Regions from separate parts of the Homo sapiens genome. Here all the other regions are linked to region 1. The links come from fine-mapping of genetic effects on gene expression. A gene starts in region 1. Each other region holds a variant in brackets. All regions are shown on one strand. Distances are from middle to middle.

Region 1 (8,268 bases):
CGAGAACAAACCAGAAAATGGGACCTGAAGAAGCCGAGAGCCTCGCCTGTGGTCAGACAGCAGCTGAGCATGGGCAGAGGACAGAGCCCAGGCCGAGGGCCGCGGCCGCCCCCACCCACAAAGACCCCTGTCCTGTCCTGGGTGGAATTCCCACACCAGCTCAGGAGGAGCCCCACCTCCTCACCCTTCCTTGTCCTCATTCCAGGGAAATGGTCTGGAAGAGCACCAGCTCCCCACGGAGCTGACTGTTTCTCTGCTTGCAAATTTCATGAGATTTCTGATTCTGAGCTCGAATCTTCTCTCCACTTTCACCTCTTGCCATTCCTCATGACCGGTCCATTTCAACATCAGGGCCAATTGTTCCTTGTACAATTGCATCTTTTCCACAGTTTAGTACAAGAAACTAGGATTCTCTTCATGTAAAAGCTATTTGATGACAAACACCTTGTTCTAAGTGACTGCCAGGAAGTGCTTGCTAATTTTAAATTCTACATTATGATGAGGCAAAGTTAGTAGGAGCCAAGGGACAGAGCACTCCCATATCTCCTCAGACACTCGCCAGGTGCATCTGTGGAGAAGCCGCCCAGTGAGTCCTTGCATCTCACAGGTGCTTCTCACAGGTGCGTCTCACAGGTGCACCTCACAGGTGCATCTCACATGTGCATCTCACAGGTGCATCTCACAGGTGCGTCTCACAGCTATGTCTCACAGGTGTGCCTCATAGGTGCGTCTCACGTGTGTCTCACGTGTGTCTCACAGGTGCGTCTCAGGTGCGTCTCACGTGTGTCTCACAGGTGCATCTCACAGGTGCATGTCACAGGTGTGTCTCACAGGTGCATGTCACAGGTGCGTCTCACATGTGTGTCTCACAGGTGCATCTCACGTGTTTCTCACAGGTGCGTCTCAGGTGCATGTCACAGGTGTGTCTCACAGGTGCATGTCACAGGTGCGTCTCACATGTGTGTCTCACAGGTGCGTCTCACGTGTGTCTCACAGGTGCGTCTCACAGGTGTGTCTCAGGTGCATGTCACAGGTGAGCCTCACAGGTGCGTCTCACAGGTGCGTCTCACAGGTGTGTCTCACAGGTGTGTCTCACAGGTGCATCTCACAGGTGCATGTCACAGGTGCATCTCACAGGTAAGCCTTACAGGTGCGTCTCACAGCTGTGTCTCACAGGTGTGTCTCACAGGTGTGCCTCACAGGTGTGTCTTTTTGACTGTGTCAAGTCCAACCCAATCAGGGTCCCCCAGCATCATCAGTAGGTATGTAGGGAAGTGAGATGGGGAAAAGATAGAACCAATAGTGTGCCATGGAGCAGTTACCTCTGGGCCCCTGCAGGTAAGGGAGCTGCGGTGTTCACACACAACTCCCATGGTCATGGCTCAGGGTTCCCCAGAGGCTGTGGACTCCTTGCCGCCCTGAACCTACTCACCTACAATCACGACGGGCTCCTGGGGCAGGACAAAGCCACAGGTGAGGAACGCGGTGCTGCGGGTGGAAGCTGCTGTCACAGTCGTGTTAGGGTGAGTGGACTATGGCCGCAGACTGTGGGCTCCTCCCAGCCAACCCTCACTCCCGCTAGCGCCCCAAATCTTCAGTCCAGCACCCCTTCCCCGTCCCACCCACTCTCCACACTGAGCCCTCCCAGCCAACCCTCACTCCCGCTAGCACCACAAATCCTCAGCCCAGCACCCCTTCCCTGTCCCACCTGCTCTCCACACTGAGCCCAGCCACTCCACGCTCCCTTGGGCAGGTGGCAAGGCAGAGCCTGAGGTCAGCTGCCACCCCCAGCCCCACCCCAGGGCCCTCATGCCCCCAGCAAGGCCTCTCCAGCTCTGCGGTCCCACTCAAGATGCGCTTAGCTCATTTCACACGCAGGTGAGTGTCTCAGTTCTGCGGGCACGGAGGCCCCTGTGGGAGGGAGGTTGGCAGGCCCCTCGCTGACGGAGGGGAGCAAGGGGCAAAGTGGGGGTGTCCAGAAGGGGGTTGTGAGGAACTGGGGGACGGGAAAGAGCCCGGAGAGGAAAAAGGAGGTGGGGAGGGGCTGCGTGTGCATAGACCTCAGGGTGGGGCAACCGAGGACCTGAAGGCTGGTTTCCGGCCGCCATCCTCACATCCAGGCGCAATGTGAGCTCATCCCTGGGAGTTGGGAAATGCAACCGGCAGGCTCTGGAGGCTGTTCTGGGACTGAATGCAAAGCAGGCGACCCTCCCCCCGGCCCCAAACCCAAGCACTGCAGCGGCCCCACAACCCCTCCCCCCACCCACATCCCCACTCCCCCGTCCCCAGTGAGAATTCACTATTTTTAGGAAAAAGGGGAAGCCTCTCAGCAGATCCTTGAAAGGAAGTGACTTTGTGACTAAGTGGAGGCAGGAACATCATGGCACAAGGGCACACGTCGCACACCCAGCTGGGCCCACTGTGGACGGCGCAGATGCTGCCTCAGAGCAGCCTCCGAGACAGGCAGCTGCAGCGGTGCAGCCCAGGGCCCTCGCAGAAGCTTCCCCGGGGCCTGGCCTCGTGCTGAGAGAACTCTGCGCTCCTGAGGGCACCTGGCTGTCATGCACACGTGCTCACACGAACACACACACCTACACGTGCGCACACTCACACTCCGTGCACACACGTATGTGCACACTCATGCACGCGTGCACACACGTCTACCAGCTGAGTGCAGTAAAAGAACCACATGAAAACCTTGCATCCTGGTTAAAAGTATGGTGACAACATGGACAGATAAACTGGAAAAGATGGGAAGAAACCTTAAGCCCAGGATCTGGCAGCACAAAGGTGCCTGGAAAGCGACAATCAGCGTTTTTATATTCAGGGAAATCAGGAACACTGCCACCCGCCCGCCAGGCCGGCGCCCATGCCAGACCCAGCCAAGGTGCTTCTGGCCACATCACCCCTGCTGGCCTGCAGGGAGCTGGCCCAGGAGCCGAGAGGCCTATGGGAGCAGGCAAGGCTTGCTGAGGTGACAGCGGAGAGGAGAGGTCGGGCTTTGTTGCCAGGCAGCCCCCCAACATTCAGGTCCTTTTTCCACTGAAAGCCATGTGGCCTCAGAGCGGCGTCACCCCGAAGCTTGTCCCAGCCGGGGCCTGACAGCAGGTAAAGGCTGACTAGCAACTCTGCATCCCTCAGAGTGTGGGGGAAGGTGGATGTGGTCCCACCTCCACATCCAGGGTCCCCTTGCTGGCCTCTGGGCATTTGGGTCCTGGTGTGATTACCCAGCCCCCTCTCCCTGCACAGGGGTGAACTGCATCTCCTGGAGGCAGGGCCAGTGCCCCACCACCTCCCCAGCACACCCGAGCCCAGGTCTGGGCTCCCAGGAGGGCCTGGGGCCACCTGTGGGACCAACCCAAACCCTCAGGCAGCTCCACCAGCAGAAAGCGTCATGCTGTGTGTGGGATAACCTCCTCAGGGGATTAGTTCTCAGGGCCTGGTCCGCTAGAAGCCAAATGCCTGTGCCCAGCCACCCGTGACGCCTGCAACAGGCAGGAGATCCCCCAACAGTTACTCCCAGCCTTCATTCCACAGGGTCTGGTTTTCCTGGAAGGTGGGAAGTCCCAGGGTCTGAGGAGAGGGAGCGCAGGCCCCCATTTGTAGGAGTGAGTCAGCTGACCCGCCCCCGGGGTTCCTAATCTCACTAAGAAAGACTTTGCTGATGACAGGGTTTCCTGGGAGTCCATGCGTGCCTGGAGCAGCAGCGTCTCCAGGGACAGGCAGCCACCATGAGCCTCAGTGAGGAGCAGGCCCGGAGCTTTCTGGACCAGAACCCCGATTTTGCCCGCCAGTACTTTGGGAAGAAACTGAGCCCTGAGAATGTGGCCGCGGCCTGCGAGGACGGGTGCCCGCCGGACTGCGACAGCCTCCGGGACCTCTGCCAGGTGGAGGAGAGCACGGCGCTGCTGGAGCTGGTGCAGGATATGCAGGAGAGCATCAACATGGAGCGCGTGGTCTTCAAGGTCCTGCGGCGCCTCTGCACCCTCCTGCAGGCCGACCGCTGCAGCCTCTTCATGTACCGCCAGCGCAACGGCGTGGCCGAGCTGGCCACCAGGCTTTTCAGCGTGCAGCCGGACAGCGTCCTGGAGGACTGCCTGGTGCCCCCCGACTCCGAGATCGTCTTCCCACTGGACATCGGGGTCGTGGGCCACGTGGCTCAGACCAAAAAGATGGTGAACGTCGAGGACGTGGCCGAGGTGGGTCTGTGCGGAGCCTCAGGGAGGCGGCTGTGTGCATCTCTTGCACCTGTCCCAGGTGTCTAAGGGTCAGCTCGGATCCTCAGGCCTCCAGGGAGGCCTCTTGTCAGGGCACAGGCTAGTTCTGTGCTGAGGAGCAAGTACCTAGAGCCCCCTCCCGGCACTGTGCCCTGGCCGCCTGCCTCTCCGACTCGGCTTCTGGCTCAAGCTGACATCGCATGGCCACTGAGTTGGTTAGACCTGAGTCTAGGAGCCTCGGCTGAAGCAGACTCAGGCTCAAACCGGGGTGCCCCTGATTCTGCATCCACATCCCATGGTGGGGACCATGTAGTCCCTGTGAGGACCCCTGGCTTCCAGGAAGACTGACCAGATGGGGGCTTCAGGGCTCTCTGGGCTGGGAGGGAGGCCCTGCCTTGGGATTTGGGAAGAAGAGGTCACAGTCGAAGGTGGTGCAGACGCCCACAGGGAGGGAGAGCCAGGGGAACCCCAAACTTCCACTGTGGCAGAAGCAGCTTTATCCCATGGGAGCCCACGCCAGCCGCCAGGGGAGAACAAACCTGGTAGCCACTGAGCACAGGGGTCCAGGGTGGGACTGGGGAGGGACAAGAGACAGAATCGAGACAGGCTCACTGGAGTCACTGAAGGAGGGAAGGGCAGGGCCTGTTCATGCAAAGCCTGGGCTAGGGCAGACGCTTCCCGAGGACAGAGGCGGTCCTGGCGGGACTGGAGAACAAGAGGGGTGTGAGGTGCCTGCCAGACTGGGTGAGGGCAGCGGCCAGCAGAGACCTGGAAAGGCCCTGAGGAGCTGCCCGGCAAGGGGGCTCTGAGGAAGAAGGGGAGGGGGGAAGCCCCTTCTCCCTGTCCTGCACCCGTCCCAGCTTCCTCTCCCCTTTTCTGTCCCCACAGCTAAGGAGGCTGCAAGAGGCCCAGGCAGCCTCCGCTCTTGCTGGATGAGCCTTGGGAATTACCCACCAGGCTGCCAGCCCAGGGGCAGGTGTGGTCCCTCCTTCCCAGGCAGCTGGGGAGTGGCAATCCTGGTTTGTTTTCGTTTGTGGGTTTTTTTTTTTTTTGAGACAGAGTCTTGCTCTGTCACCAGGCTGGAGTACAGTGGCATGATGTCAGCTCACTGCAACCTCCGTCTCCCACGTTCAAGCGATTCTCCTGCCTTGGCCTCCTGAGTAGCTAGGACTAGAGGTGCCCGCCACCACACCCGGCTAATTTTTGTATTTTTAATAGAGACAGAGTTTCGTCATGTTGGTCAGGCTGTTCTCGAACTCCTGACCTCAGGTGATCAACCTGCCTCAGATTTCCAAAGTGCTGGGATAACAGGCGTGAGCCACCGCACCAGGCCGGAAGTGGCAATCCTCTTATCCCAATGGCAGTAAGCAAGCAGCAAGGCAGTGACCTAGATTCAGTAATCCCCGGGTTACCTTCATCTCCACCTCCCTCCTAAGAAGTGGGGCACCCACAAATCAATCGTGCATCAGGAGCATGAGTTACCAGGAAGCCAGGAAACTTCACAGCAGTGGGGCCTGGGGTGGACACCAGCTGCTCCTCCCTCCCCCCGTTCCCTCCTCCCTCCTCCCCTCACTCTCCTGCCACCCTCCTCCCTCCTTTTCTGCCATCCTCCCCGTCTCCCTTCCTTCCTCCTGCACACAATCCCCAAGACAACTTCTCATCCCCACCCTGTCCCAAATCTGGGCTGTGTCTTTCTTGCCCCCAGGAGTTTGTCCCCCGCTGCCACCACCCCTTCACCCCTTTGTCCCCACCCGGCTGATGGTGTCTCTTCCCTGCTCTGCGGGTCCCCCTCAAACTGCTGGGCTGTCCTAGGTCCGTCCCTCGGCCTGGCCTGTTCCCCAGGGCTGTTCTAGGTCCTGCCACCCCCACCCCCAGTGCCATGGCCGCACCTGCCCCAGGACTGACCTCCGAGGCCTCTCCCCTGCCCAGTGTAGCTGGTGCCATTCCAAGGGGCTGGGCATGGTGTCTGTCCCTCCATTCTGTGGAGTCTTAGTTATCTCAGACTAAGGGAACAGAAACTTGAGTCTGAATTGCCACCAAAAAAAGCAAATCTTCATGAAGTGCAAATCCTCATGAAGTGCAAAGCCTCATGAAGTGCATCTCAGCACCCTAAGCACTGCCAAGTGGCTTCTGGGTTCATGTCTCAGTTTACAGAAGGGGGGACTGAGGCAGAGCACACCTCAGTCTGGCCCACTGCACCCTCTTTGGAGGGCGTGAGCCGCACCGGCCAGTTCAGGAGAGCAGCTCGTGGCTGTGGTGGAAGAGTCCCTCAGACGGGGCGTGGGTGGCCAGCACGCAACACCCGGGCCACCCGGAGTCTCACCCTCCTGCCCGGGCCACCCGGAGTCTCGCCCTCCTGAGCCTTGTCTCCCTGTTTACATTGGGGAACTAATGTCTGCCTCTCAAGGGTGCTGCAGCGGCTAAACCAGCCTGCTCCTGAGCACAGCGGGCCCTGAGTCTGCAGGGCAGGCAGGCCCCGGGTAACCCGCTCCTCCCTGAGCTGCAAGCGTCCATCCTCCTGGAGCTGAGGGTGCCAGCCCAGGGTGAAGGCTGCAGTAGCCTGGCCTGTGGGCCCTCCTGTCCCCAGGGGTCTGTCCCAGGAGCCACCATGGAGGGAGGGGCTGCCCAGGGCTCACACTCTCGGGCCTACAGGGAGCCCAGGCGGTGCCAGGCCACGTGGGACCAGCTTCTGGGAGGTGCAGGGCTTCAGCTGATGGCTCCAAGTCCCTGTCTGCTCCCAGAACCCCACGACTACACATGTTGTGTGTCACGGCAGCCCCTTGGGGAGACACAGCGAATCCCAGGGCCTGCACAAGGGGGGCCCTGCCGGGACTCAGGACTGAGCACAACCTTCCTGGAGCCTGGCCCAGGCCTGGGCATGGATTGTGAACCCTAAAACCTTGGGCTCAGGAACCACAGGTCCCAGAAGGCGGACACCAGGCCCCCCTCCATCCCTCCCAACATGTCAGAAGCCAATGGGCCAGCCGGGTGAGAGGCCCTGCCCAGCTACCCAGTGTTCATGGCTCCTAGACAAGCCTCTTGGCAGGAAGGAAGCACAGGTCGGGTGCAGAGAGGGAGGAGCGAGTGGGCCTGTGAGGTGGCATGGCCTTCCCCATCCCCCGCTGTGCACCCCGGGCAGGGACGCCGCCCACACCTGATGAGGGGGAAGCCACCAGCCCCCCCATCACCCCTTTGTGGCTCCTCAGACCTGCAAGAGTTCACAGCGAGGGCAGCTGGGATGGACGATCCTGGTGGGCTGGTGGGGCTCGGCCACGGCCACCAAGTGGCGGGGCAGGACTCACACCCCAGCTCTGACTGTGCAGCGGTTTCTGAGCCCAGCCCCAGCCGAACAGCCACGGACCCCGCAGTGCTGTGCATGCAGCCTCAGCCTCCACCACCTTCCAGCTCCTCTCCCTGGGACCGTCATGGGAACCCATCCCAAAGGCCCGTCCCGGGACCCTGGTGGGTCCCCTGCCCCCTGCCCCAAAACACCTCATCACGGGGTCCTGCACGTCGCCAGCAGTCAAGACCCTTCGACTCAGTCCTATGGTGGTCTCTACAAGGCTGGACAGAGCAGGGGCGTTGAGAACACGGGCTGGGTGGGAATCCGGAGATAGAGGGAGGAGGGTGGCAGGACCGGCCGTCAGCCATGCTGAGCACAGACGGCAGAGGAGGTGTGGGGCTTGGGCAGTTGGAGGTGCTTTGGAGAAGCCACAGTGGGTGTGAAGGCCCCAGAGCGAGGCCCAGCTGCTCGGCTATGTGAGCACACACAGCCCCCAGGCCTGCTAGAGGCAGAGCAAATGCAGGGGGTTCCCAGGAGCCTGAGAGTCCACAGCTGCCACCTGCTCCCAGACAAGGCTCCTGGCATGTCTGACCAGGAGCCTCTGGGGAAGTAGGGAAGCCCAGACTGGACAGTGGAGAGGAAGAGACCAGCAGGCAAGGACCCCCCGGCCAGGCATCACTACAGGGGACACAGAACCCAGAGGGCACCAGAGAGGAGAGACGGGGGGCCAGCAGGGGCCACGTGTTAATCTTCACCGACAGACACACG
Region 2 (8,268 bases), 190 kb before region 1:
AGCCCCTAAATTACATCTATGCCTTAGTTTCTTCGAAGTCCTATATTAGAGACCCTTTCTACATGCAAACCTAGTATTATACCCAGAGGTTACCAAATTAACCCGGTACATAAAATCGCTGACTCAATTTCAAGAGGCCATCCAGGAGTTTGGACAAACAATTCTGAGTTTGACCCCCACTCCAACAACCCTTATAACCAGGCAGGGTAACAAGTCCTCATTAAAATCTGGAGAGGTGGATCTCCTGGATCTCAACTAACCACATTACAGAAGAACAATTTTACTATCATACTTCTCACCCCAATAGCTATCAAGTTTCCTGGCATCTCTAGCTGGACACATTATTTTTGAATACAACTGGAAACACGTTAAGGAACCAAAGAAAGATTGAACCAACACTTACCTACTCCTGTGACCCACAGGAGGACTTACAAATTTTTCTCTAAATGAGAAGCTAAGTAATGCTCTTCCTCATTTTATCTCAAAGTAGGGTAATCCCAATATTGGCAATCTTATTTGCAGTGGTACTGTTGATTCTTACCTTAACCCTAACTTGCACACCACCAGGTGTTCCATTAAGAGCTTGCTTTATCTAATATTAATTTTTTAACCTAGTTATTTTACTTTTGACTGCTTTAGTCCATCAGCGATGTAATATTTTCATGTTTATATTAGAAGTCATAATACTCTGCAGATTTACTAATATGCCTTTGTTACTGTAAACCAACACCCTCTCCAGGGAAGAGTTTGCTATGTCCCTCCTACATTTAAACATCAAAGCCATAATCTGAGTAGTGATCTCTCTAATATTCATTGGGTTAACAGTCTCTCTTCTTAATCAAGCATCTCAATTTGGCCCTATTCTACTTCCCTTGGAGCCATGCAGCCTAATGTTCTATGGTCATTACTCATACTTCTGACTAAAGTCACCCTCATATGCCCTAACTGCCCACAACCTTTTTTTTAAGCACTTTGCAGGCAACTCCACAACTACTAAACTCTACCAATTCTTCCTATGCCTCAACCTGTTAGCTAGTCATGAATTCCTCTTCATCCTGGGTGGGAATGGCCTACTTGGCCACAATACAAGAATGGACATCTACTCAAGCCCAACTTAGCTTCACCTACCATCGGGACCTCTCTACACAAAACCTTCCCTCTGCTAGTATAATCTTTTTGACAAAACCTAAAGCAGCCTTTTAAGATTTTCTTAAACCCACCCCCATTGTTTCAAGCCCCTTGTTCTCCCCTGCTACCCTCATTGGCCAGGTACTCCTATGCATCTGTGCTACTGTAAACTCCAGAACCATCGTGGATGCTTTAGACCCAGCACAATGCAACACAACGAGCACCATTATTGATATTTCTCAAAATTTTGTTTCACTAAATATTCTCAACATCAAATGAGATTTTCTATTCTCCCCCAAATGTTTTAGCACCTGGAGCATTCATCCAAAATGATGCCACTGAATTCTGCGTCGGTCACACCTCTGGCAGTCAACCCAACCCATGGTGTCAACCAAGCCAGTATAAATTATGCAAAAGGTTTCAAGTCTTTGTTTCAGAAAACCCTTCTCCTTGATACTACTAGAGACATCCCCATGATAAAATGAAACAAAAAAACACATAGGACCCATGTCTGGCTCCCCTGGCAGCAGCAACTTTAGTGGCAGAATCTCACATATCGGATAGCCAACAAGGACCCTGGTCAATGTTTGGAACTGACCTCACCTTCTGCATCCATTTTTATTGACTACAGAACTTTACTTCCTGTGTGAAATGCAGGCTTATCTCTGCCTCTCTGGAAACTTGACGAGGACATGCACTCTGGCTTCCTTCACCCCTAAAATTTGCATTGTCCTGGGTGATGATTCTTTGCTGTTACCCTTTACTACCTCAAACCAGATCAACTGTGCAGTTTATCTTTTTTATTTTTTTCCTCAATGAGCTTGGCATCACAAGTGCCACTACAGGAATAGCTGGCATAATTATTGCCTTCTCAACTTACCACAACCTGTCTCTAGAACTGACTCAAAAAACAGAAACCACTGCTCAGACTCTTACAGAGTGACAGCAACAAGTTGATTATCTCGTGGCTGTAGTTCAAAATTGTAGAGGTCTTGCCACACTAGCTGCAGCTCACAAAAGCATTTGCCTTATGCTAGGAGAAAAATGCTGTTTCTGGGTTAACAGATTAGGGAAAGTCCAGGACCATGTTAGAGATTTTATAAACCAAGCCTGTCACCATCAGAAACATGCCACTAAGGGCTAGTTCTCCTGGGGTGCCAACTGGTTCAAATTCTCATCACATCCCTTTTTGGGGGATCCCTAGCTTTTGTCTTCCTTTTTCTCTTTTGTGAGCTTTACTCACTAAATCAAGTAACCAGGTTTGTTTCCTCTCACCTGGAAACTCTCAGACTTCAAATGGTCCTGCAACAGGAGTATCAACCTATTTTCTTCCCTTCTGTACAACTGTGTTTCTCCACATTTCCTCTGGATACTGCAAGTCAAACCTGGGAAAACATGGAGGGAATGTTTTTCTGACAAAGAGCAAGATAATGAGATGCTGATGAGTTATCTTATGTCACCAGGAAGTAGTTACAGAAGACCCACAGTGCACTGTCTCAAAGATTTTTAGAGTCACAATCTATTGAGGGAATGTTCGAGTAGGCAGTTAGACATGAACAGAAAAAAAGAGCCCCAGAGGAAAAAGCCTCATGCTCCAAAGACAACCCAAAACATGTATGCTAAATTTGAGCAGAGAGGAGCAGAAATACCTATGAAGAACACCCTGAAACACCACTTAGGACACCCAGTAATTGCTCATACTGTGATTAAACTGTCAGAATGTAGCTAGCTACATGCTGATAAAAAGGGAAAAAGGGCTAAAGGAAAATTCCTAAGAGATACGTAGGCATAGTAAGTACACATTTGACTGCTATATTATTTTCCTAAGATGGCGGTAATAAGCAGTGCTGCCATTAAGATTCATTGATCACTGGAACTCACACATGTATATCAGCTGACAGTAAGGAAGCATCTCACAGACCTGGGCAGAAACTCGATGAGGATAAAAGAAGAGATTTACCAGGAAGCAGGATACTAAACAAAGGCAGACACTTAAGACAGAGGTGGGAAATTTTTTTTAAGTCTATGATAATAAAAACTGCAACATGTAACTCTCAAGACTGTTTCCAGCTGGGCCAACCTACTCCTCTTTTGGTGTGTTCTTTGTGTCTGGGCTGAATTGTTTCTCTCAAGAAAACAAGAACTAAGGACTTTGCACTTCCTGGTAACATTTTCACTCTCCCCCACCTCTTGACAAACACCATTGTACTTTGTTTTTATGAGCTGACTACTAAAAATATCTCACATAAATGAAATTATAATTTTTTTTTTTGAGACGGAGTCTCGCTGTGTTGCCCAGGCTGGAGTGCAGCAGCGTGATCTTGGCTCACTGCAAGCTCCACCTCCTGGGTTCACGCCATTCTCCTGCCTCAGCCTCCCAAGTAGCTGGGACTACAGGTGCTGTCACCACGCCTGGCTAATTTTTTGTATTTTTAGTAGAGACGGCGTTTCACCATGTTAGCCAGGACGGTCTCGAGTTCGAGACCTTTGCCTCCCAAAGTGCTGAGATTACAGGCGTGAGCCACCGCGCCCAGCCCAATGTTTGTTAATTTTTTATTAAGGATGGGTGTTGAGGCCGGGCACGGTGGCTCATGCCTATAATCCCAGCACTTTGGGAGGTCGAGGTGGGCGGATCATGAGGTCAGGAGATCGAGACCATCCTGGCTAACACAGTGAAACCGCATCTCTACTAAAAACACAAAAAAATTAGCCGGGCGCAGTGGCGGGCACCTGTAGTCCCAGCTACTCGGGAGGCTGAGACAGGAGAATGGCGTGAACTCGCGAGGTGGAGCTTGCAGTGAGCTGAGATCACGCCACTGCACTCCGGCCTGGACGACAGAGCGAGACTCCGTCTCAAAAAAAAAAATGGGTGTTGAAGATAATCATGTATTTTCTGTTTGAAGAGGTTGTTTACCGTAGTAGTTAAGACTTATCTCTAGAGTCAAACTTGCCTGTGTTTTACTACTGGCTCTTCTGTTGTGAGCAAGTCATTTTTCTCTGTGGCTCTGTTCCTTCCTCTGTAAAATAAGGATAATAATAATGTCTATGCATTGAGTTTCTGTGAAAATTAACAGATATACAGGATTATGGTTAGTATTTGGTATATATTATTATGTATATGCTGAATTACATTAATTAATGAACGTTTGAATTCAATAGCTGCCATAATCTGATTTTCCAGAGAAGGTGACGAAGGACTTGGATAAAGTGACTAAAAATGAAAACCGTACCTCATGAACTGCATCCACTAAAACAAAAAAATCATAACAAATTTCCTCAAGATTGTAACATGAATCTCAACAGAAAAGATCACTGCAGATTTTGAATCTTGAATCTACACAGATCATTCTATTTTTCCAACACTTAACATTTACACTCAAAAGATTCAGCTTAAAAAAATAGTTTTGCTATGTCATAGAAAATGATATGTAAAATCCTTCACCTACCATTAAGTCTCTTAAAAATTTCAAGAGGGCCGGGTGTGGTGGCTCCCGCCTGTAATCCCAGCACTTTGGGAGG[C/T]AGAGGCAGGCGGATCATGAGGTCAGGAGATCGAGACCATCCTGGCTAACATGGTGAAACCCCATCTCTACTAAAAATACAAAAAATTAGCCAGGCGTGGGAGTGGGCGCCTGTAGTCCCAGCTACTCGGGAGGCTTAGGCAAGGGAATGACGTGAACCCAGGAGGCAGAGGTTGCAGTGAGCTGAGATCGTGCCACTGCAGGTTAGCCTTGGCAACAGAGAAAGATTCTGTCTAAAAAAAAAAAAAAATTTTTTTTCTAAGATATATTTTATCTTAAGAGATATCAAAATTCTGATGAGTTTCTTCATATGGTGCTTACAATATGCAACCCACTTATATTAATGTTTTACCTATTCTAACTTATGTTTAACACACTTTTTGTTAGAATCTCATACAATTTTTCCTTTACCAATACAGAGAAGCAATGCTGACTTAATCCTCTTACCTGTGAACAGTGAATTACTCTCAAGTCATCTGAATGTTGTATTGATAAATTATAAATAATCTCAAACAACCCAGTTAAAAACAATAATATACCACATTAAAAATTCTAAACTTCTCATCTGAACCTTGAAAGTCCATGTGAAATTACACGGCATGAAGAGATCAGCGAGGAAACTGTAGCCAAAACACAAAGGAAAAGAAGACATCACAAAACTAAAGATAATTAGAAAATAAAAACAGAAATCCTCTTTAAATTCAGACTGAGTCAGTTTTGCAGCCTGGGAACACGTCCTCTCCACATGCACAATTAATGACATTTCTTCAACATAGATATTTTTAATCTTTTACTTGGAGCTACGAACTAACTCCAGGAATATTTATGGCTAGTTATGGAGCATCTATTACACACCCAGCACTTTGTGTTTGTTCACTACAATTATTTATCAAAACATCCCCAATACTTATGTCTTCCCAGTACTTGCCTGAACAAACTTATTTAGTTATAAAAAGTGAAAAGAACAATAACTAAAGAAAACAGCTTATATAAGGTTGTCCAATAAAATGAAATGTTCTAATTAAATAAAACATAAATACACACATTGTGAAATTACATCTAAAAAGTATTTTTGGTGCACTAAATTTTATAAAAATGATTCTTATAATTTCTGACAAGCTCACATACTTTATGAAGTGGAAACAAAAAAAATGAGAAATTTATAGCTAGAGCATGAGGACCACATAAAACCAGAATTGATTGGCATGGGGAGATTCTCAACGATGATTCATTAGATTGTACAGTAATTAAATGAAAAGAAGAAAATATAGATTTGATTTCAAAATGTTTTAGATTTCTAGTAAATTACCTATCCACAGTATTAATAGAACCTTCTTTGTTCCAATATTGCTATTTTCTTTGGAAAATAGGTATAAACTCTCATGCAAACACAATTACTTGCTCCATAATTTCCTTGTGCCCAACGTTTATCTTTAGAGCACAAAATTTATATATTTAACTCCAAGTAAATTAAATGTCTGTATGTGTTTGCAGGAGGACATGCCACATGTTCAAAGATATATATGAAACATTTTTTAAAAGTATTCAAGACTCAGGAATGTATGAATGTTTATTACAAACATAAAATGACCTGTAGTTAAAAATAATTAAAGTGTGTAACTGGATTGTGTGTAATACAAAGGATAAATGCTTGAGGTGATAATAACTCATTTACTGTGGTGTGATTATTACATACTGTATGCCTGTATCAAAATAACCCATATATACCATAAATATATACACATACTATGTACTCACAAAACCTTTTGAAAAATTTCAATAAGAATAAAAATGTAACATGCAAACAATATTCTTCAATTTATTTGCTGTTGAAAGCCACTAAAAAAGACTAGAGATGTCATTCAATTATATTACCAGATAGTACATTGTTACCATCTTTAACGTACACCCTTGAGTAAGGTTGGATAGGTGAAAGTTGGTGGCATAATAAAACACTTCATTCACGGCACAAAAATTTTAACACAATAACAATTTTTATTTCAAAAATTAAGTTCACACATTATCTTAAGAGAATTTTAAAATTTACTGCATTTTATTGCACTTATTACATAAATATACAGTTGGCAAAACAATTTACTACTAAAATTCAGATTCTCTCTCAGTATAACGCAAAGTATTACTCTGAACACCTACTTCAGGCATCACTCAGTAAGTCAACCACTAAAAGCCTCTCTGCTCAGATTTTCCTGGTGCATCTTTTATTTCTCTTCTCTTTCATGTAGAAGTCTATGAATAATGCCCACCTAATGCAAAGGAGTTTCTCATATCTCTGACGCAGCAACAATTTATCACATGCTTTCACATAAATGAGAATGTTGAAATAGTATAATTTTAGAGTTGAATTATTTGCTTTTGAAAAAAATTTTTACTTTTTTCAAGTGAAAAAATATATTTCGAATATATCTCTTCAAAAACCTACTTTTCAACTTATATACAAGGAAATTTTCTAACAGGTTCAACTTTTGTTATACTTAATACTCTGATTTATTTTAAAGTCTGAAGTGTTAGTTCCTTAGTTCTTTCTACTGTAAATCCTCTGATGTTTACATAGTCTTAATTTTAGCCTAAATATTTCTTCACATTTACTGCACCTACAAATTATATTCTAGTAAAAATTCTCTGGTGTTTCTTTTCTTTTTATCTTGTTTTGAGACAGAGTTTCACTCTTGTTACCCAGGCTGGAGTGCAATGGCACGATCTCAGCTCACCGCAACCTCCACCTCCTGGGTTCAAGCCATTCTCCTGTCTCAGCCTCCTGAGTAGCTGGGATTACAGCCATGCACCACCATGTCCTGCTAATTTTTGTATTTTTAGTACAGACGAGGTTTCTCCATATTGGTCAGGCTGTCCTTGAACTCCCGACCTCAGGTGATCCACCCTCCTTGGCCTCCCAAAGTGTTGGGATTACAGGCGTGAGCCACCGCGCCTGGCCTCTGGTTTCTTAACCTGCAGTTTCTGAACAGAGGTTTTTCCACATTTATTACATTTGTAGGATTTCTCTCCAATATAAATTCTCTGATGTTGAACAAAGTTTAAGCAACTGCTTCAGAGTTTTCCTCTAGTACAAAATGCATATAGTAAGTTCTGGGATACAAGTACAGGTACTAGAGCCCTCTTTATCTTTGTATTCTCTGTCTTAAGACTATTCTTCACTTTAATGGCCTATATTTTCTAAAAGGTCTTTCAACAGAAATTACATTTATAATGCTTTTATTAACTATAAATTTCAAGTAGACAATAGCTTTTGTATATTTTTATGTTTGTACAAGTAGTCTCACATATAAATACTATCATGTGCAAAAATGCTAAGCATTGGTTACAAGTTTTGCCACATTTTTTGTATTTCCAGGTGTTTTCTTCAGTAGGAATTACATTAAGAACTGACTAGAATTGGAAGTCTTTGCCACATTTTTAATTTTAATTTGGCTTCTCATCAATATAATTACTCTTATGTCTACAACAGATTGAGGTGTGATTAAAAGCCTTCTCACATTTTTCACATTTTAGAGTTTCTCTTCATTATGAATTATCTTATGATTAGAAAGGATTGAGGAGCATTTAAAGACCGCGACATTCGTCACCTTCGTAAGACATTCCCCTG
Region 3 (8,000 bases), 40 kb after region 1:
GCCAGTGGGAAACGCAGGGATGGGGAAGATCGGGAAGTCCAGGAGACGGTGTGGGGATGATGGCACGGAGCAGGGCTTCCACTGTGAAGTCAGCCACAGGTGCCGCTCTGGCGGGACTTACACGCTTGCCGCCGGAGCCCTGTGTCCTCTCGGCTCCCCCAGGTCCTGGTGCGGTTCCTGTTCTCCATCAGCAAAGGGTACCGGAGAATCACCTACCACAACTGGCGCCACGGCTTCAACGTGGCCCAGACGATGTTCACGCTGCTCATGGTACGTGGCTGCCAGAATCACCAGGGTTGTGCAGGCCCTCCTGGTACCAAGGGCAGCACTCAAGCACCCCGAGGGATGAGATGGGGGTCCTCCCAGGGCAGAAGGATGGAGGAGGGCAACGCCCTCTGACACCGTGCACCGCGCACCCCAGCCCTGCGGTGGTCGGAGGTCCAACCTCCAACCCGACGCCTAGGTCATCCCAACCCCTCACCACTCCCCACCCTGCTGGAGCCAGGACCGGTGAGCAAGGTGGCCCTGTCTCTACAGACCGGCAAACTGAAGAGCTACTACACGGACCTGGAGGCCTTCGCCATGGTGACAGCCGGCCTGTGCCATGACATCGACCACCGCGGCACCAACAACCTGTACCAGATGAAGTAGGCACCTCAGGGCGGGCATGTGAATTAGCCCTAAATCAACTCCACGCCCTTGGCGTGAATTAGGCTTCGCATAGCAGGCTATGTAGAAAGTGGAGTCCACGGCCAGGCCCCGTACTCCAGCACTGTGGGAGGCCAAGGCGAGGGGATTGCTTGAGCCCAGGAGTTCGAGACCAGCCTGGGCAACATGGCAAGAGCTCTCCTCTACAAAAACTTAAAAAAAAAAAAAAAAAAAAAAGCTGTGTATGGTGGCGCACACCTGTGGTCCCAGCTACTTAGGAGGCTGAGGTGGGAGGATCACTTGAGCCCAGGAGGTCAAGGCTGTATTGAGCCATGATTGCACCACTGCACTCCAGAGTGGGTGACAGAGGCAGACCCTGTCTCAAAAAAAAGAAAGTGGGGCCCATCTGGGGGGGCTGCAGAGCGCAGGGTGGGCCAAGGGCAGGTCCCACGGGCCTCACCTCCACCACCTGTGTAACAGGTCCCAGAACCCCTTGGCTAAGCTCCACGGCTCCTCGATTTTGGAGCGGCACCACCTGGAGTTTGGGAAGTTCCTGCTCTCGGAGGAGGTTGGTATACTCACCCTCGGTTTCTGCTGTGGGCGCTGGGGACGCAGCGTCCGCAGGACGGCAGGGCCGTATCCTGCGGAGCAGGGTTCTGATGCAGCGGGTGAGCACTGGGTGTGTGAGCACTGGGGGAGGGCGGCAGAGAAGGCGGAGGGCCGAGGCTGAGGGCAGGTGCATCGGAGGCCCTGGGAAAACGCTTGTGGGGAAGACAACTGGAAAGGGCCCCTCATGGGGTGGGGTGGAAGCCGAAGGGGAAGCGGCCCGGGACCCACCAGCGGGGGAATGAAGGGCAGCCGAGCCCTGAGCGGCCCCCAAGGACCTGGACACTCAGTGGACCCCTCCCTGCGCTCCCCGGTGGTGACCTCTGAGGCCATCTGCGTCCCAAGCCGACGATGGAGCCGCTGGTGGAGAGCTGGGCACCCTGAGGAGGGCCCTGAGCAGCAGGCGGATTAGGGGTCCCGCCCACCGAGGGCCCGAGGGCGGGGGCGTGAGAGGCACAGGCAGCCGAGGCGGAAGGGGCGGGGTCCCCGGGCACCCTGAGAGGTGGCCGCAGGGCGCCTGACGCGCTGGGCATAACCTCCGCAGACCCTGAACATCTACCAGAACCTGAACCGGCGGCAGCACGAGCACGTGATCCACCTGATGGACATCGCCATCATCGCCACGGACCTGGCCCTGTACTTCAAGTGCGCGCCTTCCGGGAGGGGGCGCCTCGCGGGGCGGGCGGGTAGCCTGGGACCCCCGGCAGACACGGGGGCGCAGCGGCGGCACAGCCCGGGGGACGCAGCCCCGGATTCCGTCCCTGCCCGCCGGCCCCGCGCACCCCGGATGGGGCCTCGCTCGGGCTCCGCGCCTCCCTGCAGACGGGCGCTTGGGGCGGGGTCTCCACACTTGCTCCCACCTGCACCTCCCTTGTTCCCTGGGTTCAGGAAGAGAGCGATGTTTCAGAAGATCGTGGATGAGTCCAAGAACTACCAGGACAAGAAGAGCTGGGTGGAGTACCTGTCCCTGGAGACGACCCGGAAGGAGATCGTCATGTGAGCGCGGGCGGAGGGGGCACGAGGGGTCCTTCCCTCGCAGGGACCGGGCCCACTCACCAGCTGGTTAACCCTGCAGCCCTCCCCAGACGCTCTGGAGCAGGAAGAGCCCGTCGCGGCAGCTTGTCGAGGGCTGTGAAACAAATGCGCCGTCCTTATTTCCCCCCAGCTCTCAGGGAGATGGTGCAGAGCTGGGGAGCACACAGGCCCTGCATTGGTCTGTAGCCCTTGGCAGTAACTTACTTCATTTTGACCTTCCACTTTTTCACCTGTAAAATGGTGATTCACAACCAGCCCCTCCCCAGGCTGGTCCCAGGGACCCAGTGAGAAAATACACATAAACCCAGCACTTGGGAGGCCGAGGGGAGTGGATCACCTGAGGTCAGGAGTTCGAGATCAGCCTGGCCAACATGGTGAAACCCCGTCTCTACCGAAAATACAAAAATTAGCCGGGCGTGGTGGCGGGCGCCTGTAATCCCAGCTACTCGGGAGGCTGAGGCACAAGAATCGGGAGGCGGAGGTTGCAGTGAGCTGAGATTGCGCCATTGCACTCCAGCCTGGGCAACAGAGCAAGACTCCATCTCAAAAAAGAAAACACATATAAACCACCTGCCCTCAGGAGACGCCCATCAGCACTCGTGCCCGGTTTGTGTCTGCAGGGCCATGATGATGACAGCCTGCGACCTGTCTGCCATCACCAAGCCCTGGGAAGTCCAGAGCAAGGTTAGAACAGAGGGCCCTCCAGACCCAGAGTCAGTGCCTCTCAGCACATGGGACTGCCGGGCGGGCGGGAGCCTCGGATGGCAACGGACCATTGTTTGCAAGGAGCTCTGAGGGCCACCTCGGGGCCAGGCCAGGGCGGCAAGGATGGGGGTACTGCAGTGTGTCTACATGGCTCAACCGGAGCCCTGTGTGGTGGGGACCCCGGGGGTCTGGGGCGGAGAAGACCGAGGCTCGGAGCCTCACGGGGCGGGCCCGGGCCCTTCCGCGTGGGCTCAGAGCTCCACAGACAGCTGCCTTCCTGTGCCTCCAGGTCGCACTTCTCGTGGCTGCTGAGTTCTGGGAGCAAGGTGACTTGGAAAGGACAGTCTTGGATCAGCAGCCCATTGTGAGTGCTGCTTCTGGAACCTTCCACTCCTGAAACGGGTGTTAGAGACCCCTCTTGGTCCTCAGGAGCCTCAGGTCCTGGCTTGGTCTCAGGCAGGGGGTTCTGAGGTCGTGGGGTCCTTATCTCACTTTGTGGGATCATGTGACATGCGTGTGGGTGGCTCGGACCTGGGTACAGCTGTGGCTTGGGTGATGCTTATGCAGAGGTGACGTCGTTGGCACTGGAGGAACCAGGGCCACCCGCTCATCACCAGGAGCCTCTGGGTCCAGGCAGCTCTGCAGGTGAACCCCAGCAGGGCCGCGAGCCATGCACCAAGAAAGCCCTGGGGAGGGTGCTGGGGCAGAGAACGCATGGGGGGCGTCCCGGGCCCACACAGTGGTATGATGGACAATGCCAGGGTCCTCAGGTCAGCAGCGGGGTCTGGATACCTCCTGGCAGCAGGAGAGGTGCCAGCAAATGGGAGAGTCAGGATAGGCGCCAGGAACAGGAGAGGCAGGGCTGCCCCAGCCCCACGTGGACCAGGTGGGAGCTGTGGTTTCTCACACACCCGCTCTGGTGGGCGGCGAGGGGCTCTCTGGAGCCTGCAGTGGAGAGGGCTTAGGCCAGGTGCAGCCTCGGCAGGAAAGGGGGCATTGGTTGGTCAGCAAAGCCCCACAGGGGAAGGACAGGCAGCAGGTCCATCCCCCGCGCCCGGCCTCTAGAGTCCTGCATGGTTCACCCTCCACCAGGACGCTGTGAGGGGACGGACAGCCCAGGGCACTCGGGGTCTGACACTAGAAACAGCTCCAGAGCACGTCTGTGTCTGCCCCAGGCGAGTGCACAGCGAGGTCCTGGTCAGCCGAGTGTCTGGGCAGTGCAGCCCAGCCCGGCTCAGCACTGTGTACAGCCCATCCCCCTCCCCGCCTCTCCCCAGCTGCAGTAAGGGTCCCCAGAGCCAAGAGGGGGCTGCCCTCAGGGGACCACGGGCTGGAGCCAACAGCAGCTGTGGGAAGAAGCTGCCCACAGTTCCTAGGAGCTGTGGAGCCGCTGGCCAAGGGAGAGGGTGTCAGCTTCCCCTCCCGAGAGCCAGTTTCTGTCAGGCAGGCTCGTCCCAGGCTGTGTCTCCATGAGCACATCTGAGTGAGGGGGTCGGGGGGCTGGGCGGGGCCCCAGGAGCTGCCTCCCTGGTCACTGTTCTCCCGCCCTCTGTTCCTCCCACCAGCCTATGATGGACCGGAACAAGGCGGCCGAGCTCCCCAAGCTGCAAGTGGGCTTCATCGACTTCGTGTGCACATTCGTGTACAAGGCGAGTGGTTCACGGGTGTTCCGAGCTGACTGGGGCAGGGTGGCTGGGAGCAGGCAAGGGGGCGCGGGCTGGAGTCGCGTGGACTCACACGGGCCCGGCGGTGTCCTCACTGGAGTAGGGATGCCAGTGCCAGCTTCGTGCCGCTCTTGAGTGGGGCAAATGGGGAGGAACATCAGTTTCCGGACCCCCACAGGTGCCCCAGCCCATCCTCACCCTGCTGTGCCCCTGGAAGCTCTGAGCCCTTTCCCAGCCCAGAATGTCCTCTGCTAGCCTCCAGGCCTACCCCAGAAGTTCTCCCTCAGTGCCCTCCGCC[G/A]TGGCCAGCACACTGTTTTGGGGGCCTTGGCTGCAGCTCTGTGGGTTCATTTGTTCCATGTTTGTGAACCCTCGAGGCGGGGCTGGGTCGGCCTGTCTGCTGGTGCACCCGCCCACAGGGGCGTTTGGAACAGCAGAAGGAGCCACATCCCTGCCAATCTGCCACAGTCCGATGCCAGCTGAGTCTCTGAGGACGCAAGGCGGACATGGAGGGGGAGACTCGATGGGGCAGGGGTCTGACCGTGGGGCCCTGTGTGATGCCCATAAGAGCCAGCTGCCTCCGGCCACACTCCCTGGTGATGGAATCCACGCCCCAAGGAGGATGCCACGGGTTCCACATGAAGTTGTCCCGGAGTGGGCTGTGCCCACTCCCCGCCCCATCCTACCCACCCCGGGTCGTCAGTGCTGGGGAGAAGGTGGGACAAGGGTGGATATTTGGGCCTGAAGTGGCCACAGGTCACGGCCCCACTGCAGGTGCCCCCCACTGCCTTCCCCACCCCGCCACACTCCATGTGTGATGTGCGCGAGTGCACGCGTGTGCTGTGCTTGCATGATGTGTGCCGTGTGTGTGTGGGAGGGACGGGAGAAGGCACTGCAGGGGCTGCCTGCTGTCCGCCTGTGCCCACCACCCCTCTGCCTGGCACCCTGCCCCCACCCCCTGAGCTGTTCTGCTCATTCTTGGGTTCCTCTCCCTGCAACACTGCACCCTAAGCATGCATACCCTAAAGCTCCCGGCTTCAATGTCACCAACACAGCCCCCGAGGTTTCTCCCTTCACAGGGCTCTGCTGGGAAGGTGCCCCCTCCGTGGCGCTCCCTCCTCCTGCCAGGCAGTTCATCCCCTACGAGGGGGATGAGCTGGGGAAGGGCTATCTTACTCTGGAGAGAGCAGGCAGGACAGGACTGGTGGTGACTTCTCGACTCCCCTCAGGAGTTCTCTCGTTTCCACGAAGAGATCCTGCCCATGTTCGACCGACTGCAGAACAATAGGAAAGAGTGGAAGGCGCTGGCTGATGAGTATGAGGCCAAAGTGAAGGCTCTGGAGGAGAAGGAGGAGGAGGAGAGGGTGGCAGCCAAGAAAGGTCTGGCTCTGTGTGGCCTGTGGGGCAGGGACTCGGTGACTCTCCCAAGGCAAAATGAAAAGACAGGGCACAGAGCAGAGTTAAAATGGAGAAAAGCAGAGCCACTTTCAAGAAGCCTCGAGGTGGACAGGGCCACAGTGCAGGGAGAGAGGCCACGGCGGGGGAGAGTGGCAGCTGACTCCACCTCGGTAGCAAACCCGGACTGAAAAATTTCCTCTGTTCCTAGCCAGTGAACCCCATTTTTCAAGAAAGAAGTAACCATATCTTATGTCCTTTATAAAGGACTTAGTTGCAACAAGTCAGCACACCCCCAAGTTCAAATCCCAAAGGCATCGTGGTCTTGCCATTGGCCCGCACTTGGCTACCTTAGCTCTGAGGTTTGGCTTGCTATTCCCGCTGCTCCCAGTATCCCATGCTATTCCCGCTACCCCATGCTGCTCCCACTACCCCATGCTGCTCCCACTACCCCATGCTGCTCCCACTACCCCATGCTATTCCCCTACCCCATGCTAGTACCACTACCCCATGCTATTCCCGCTACCCCATGCTATTCCCCTACCCCATGCTAGTACCACTACCCCATGCTATTCCCGCTACCCCATGCTATTCCCCTACCCCATGCTATTCCCGCTACCCCATGCTGCTCCCACTACCCCACGCTATTCCCCTACCCCATGCTATTCCCGCTATGCCATGCTATTCCCCTACCCCATGCTATTCCTGCTATGCCATGCTATTCCCCTACCCCATGCTATTCCCCTACCCCATGCTGCTCCCACTACCCCACGCTATTCCCCTACCCCATGCTGCTCCCACTACCCCACGCTATTCCCCTACCCCATGCTATTCCCGCTATGCCATGCTATTCCCGCTACCCCATGCTATTCCCCTACCCCATGCTGCTCCCACTACCCCACGCTATTCCCCTACCCCATGCTGCTCCCACTACCCCACGCTATTCCCCTACCCCATGCTGCTCCCACTACCCCACGCTATTCCCCTACCCCATGCTATTCCCGCTATGCCATGCTATTCCCGCTACCCCATGCTATTCCCCTACCCCATGCTGCTCCCACTACCCCACGCTATTCCCCTACCCCATGCTGCTCCCACTACCCCACGCTATTCCCCTACCCCATGCTGCTCCCACTACCCCACGCTATTCCCCTACCCCATGCTATTCCCGCTATGCCATGCTATTCCCGCTACCCCATGCTATTCCCCTACCCTATGCTGCTCCCACTACCCCATGCTATTCCCACTACTCCATGCTGCTGCCACTACCCCATGCTAGTCCCACTACCCCATGCTATTCCCGCTACCCCATGCTATTCCCCTACCCCATGCTATTCCCACTACCCCATGCTATTCCCCTACCCCATGCTATCCCCCTACCCCATGCTATTCCCGCTACCCCATGCTATTCCCCTACCCCATGCTATTCCCACTACCCCATGCTATTCCCACTACGCCATGCTATTCCCGCTACCCCATGCTATTCCCACTACCCCATGCTATTCCCGCTACCCCATGCTATTCCCGCTACGCCATGCTATTCCCACTACCCCATGCTATTCCCGCTACCCCATGCTATTCCCGCTACCCCATGCTATTCCCGCTACCCCATGCTATTCCCCTACCCCATGCTATTCCCGCTACGCCATGCTATTCCCGCTACCCCATGCTATTCCCGCTACCCCATGCTATTCCCGCTACCCCATGCTATTCCCGCTACCCCATGCTATTCCCCTACCCCATGCTATCCCCCTACCCCATGCTATTCCCGCTATCCTATGCTACATAAACAAGGCGACTTCAGGACTATGGAAGGCCAGGATGAGCATAATCAGGGCACAGTGTCAACAGAGGCTAAAGCACTAAGAAAGGCTCAGCCCAGCTAATCGGCTTGGGCTGGTCACAGACCCAGGTGCTGTCCTTCCTCCTGCAGGGGTTGGTAGAGGTCAC

Which allele goes with the higher level. Alleles are on the strand shown, and positions count from the first base shown. SD is a standard deviation of normalised expression in the study named. Not every link is listed here.
With allele C in place of T in region 2, the expression in hippocampus of the gene that starts at base 3,678 in region 1 is higher (large effect, 0.85 SD a copy in GTEx).

The links.
Region 2: its variant is fine-mapped to the expression of PDE6B in hippocampus (GTEx, PIP above 0.99).
Region 3: its variant is fine-mapped to the expression of PDE6B in whole blood (INTERVAL, PIP above 0.99).

Annotation. Positions count from the first base shown.
Region 1 is chr4:621,896-630,163 of GRCh38, forward strand. PDE6B (phosphodiesterase 6B) reads left to right here and starts at 3,678. Exons shown (of 22, transcript NM_000283.4): 1 at 3,678-4,199. The coding sequence starts at 3,732. RefSeq lists enhancers at 1,374-2,364, 3,354-4,343, 4,344-5,332.
Region 2 is chr4:433,367-441,634 of GRCh38, forward strand. It overlaps ZNF721 (zinc finger protein 721), which reads right to left. Exons shown (of 3, transcript NM_133474.4): 3 at 6,622-8,268. It also overlaps the pseudogene ABCA11P and the pseudogene LOC100533734. Among named protein-coding and RNA genes, the nearest start is that of ZNF721, 62 kb to the right of the region's middle. The variant C/T (reference allele first, on the strand shown) is at 4,648.
Region 3 is chr4:661,972-669,971 of GRCh38, forward strand. PDE6B (phosphodiesterase 6B) reads left to right here. Exons shown (of 22, transcript NM_000283.4): 13 at 163-270; 14 at 538-647; 15 at 1,129-1,216; 16 at 1,799-1,899; 17 at 2,143-2,250; 18 at 2,910-2,973; 19 at 3,284-3,358; 20 at 4,560-4,643; 21 at 5,885-6,035. Among named protein-coding and RNA genes, the nearest start is that of ATP5ME, 8.3 kb to the right of the region's middle. RefSeq lists an enhancer at 1,402-1,994 and a silencer at 1,589-2,058. The variant G/A (reference allele first, on the strand shown) is at 4,957.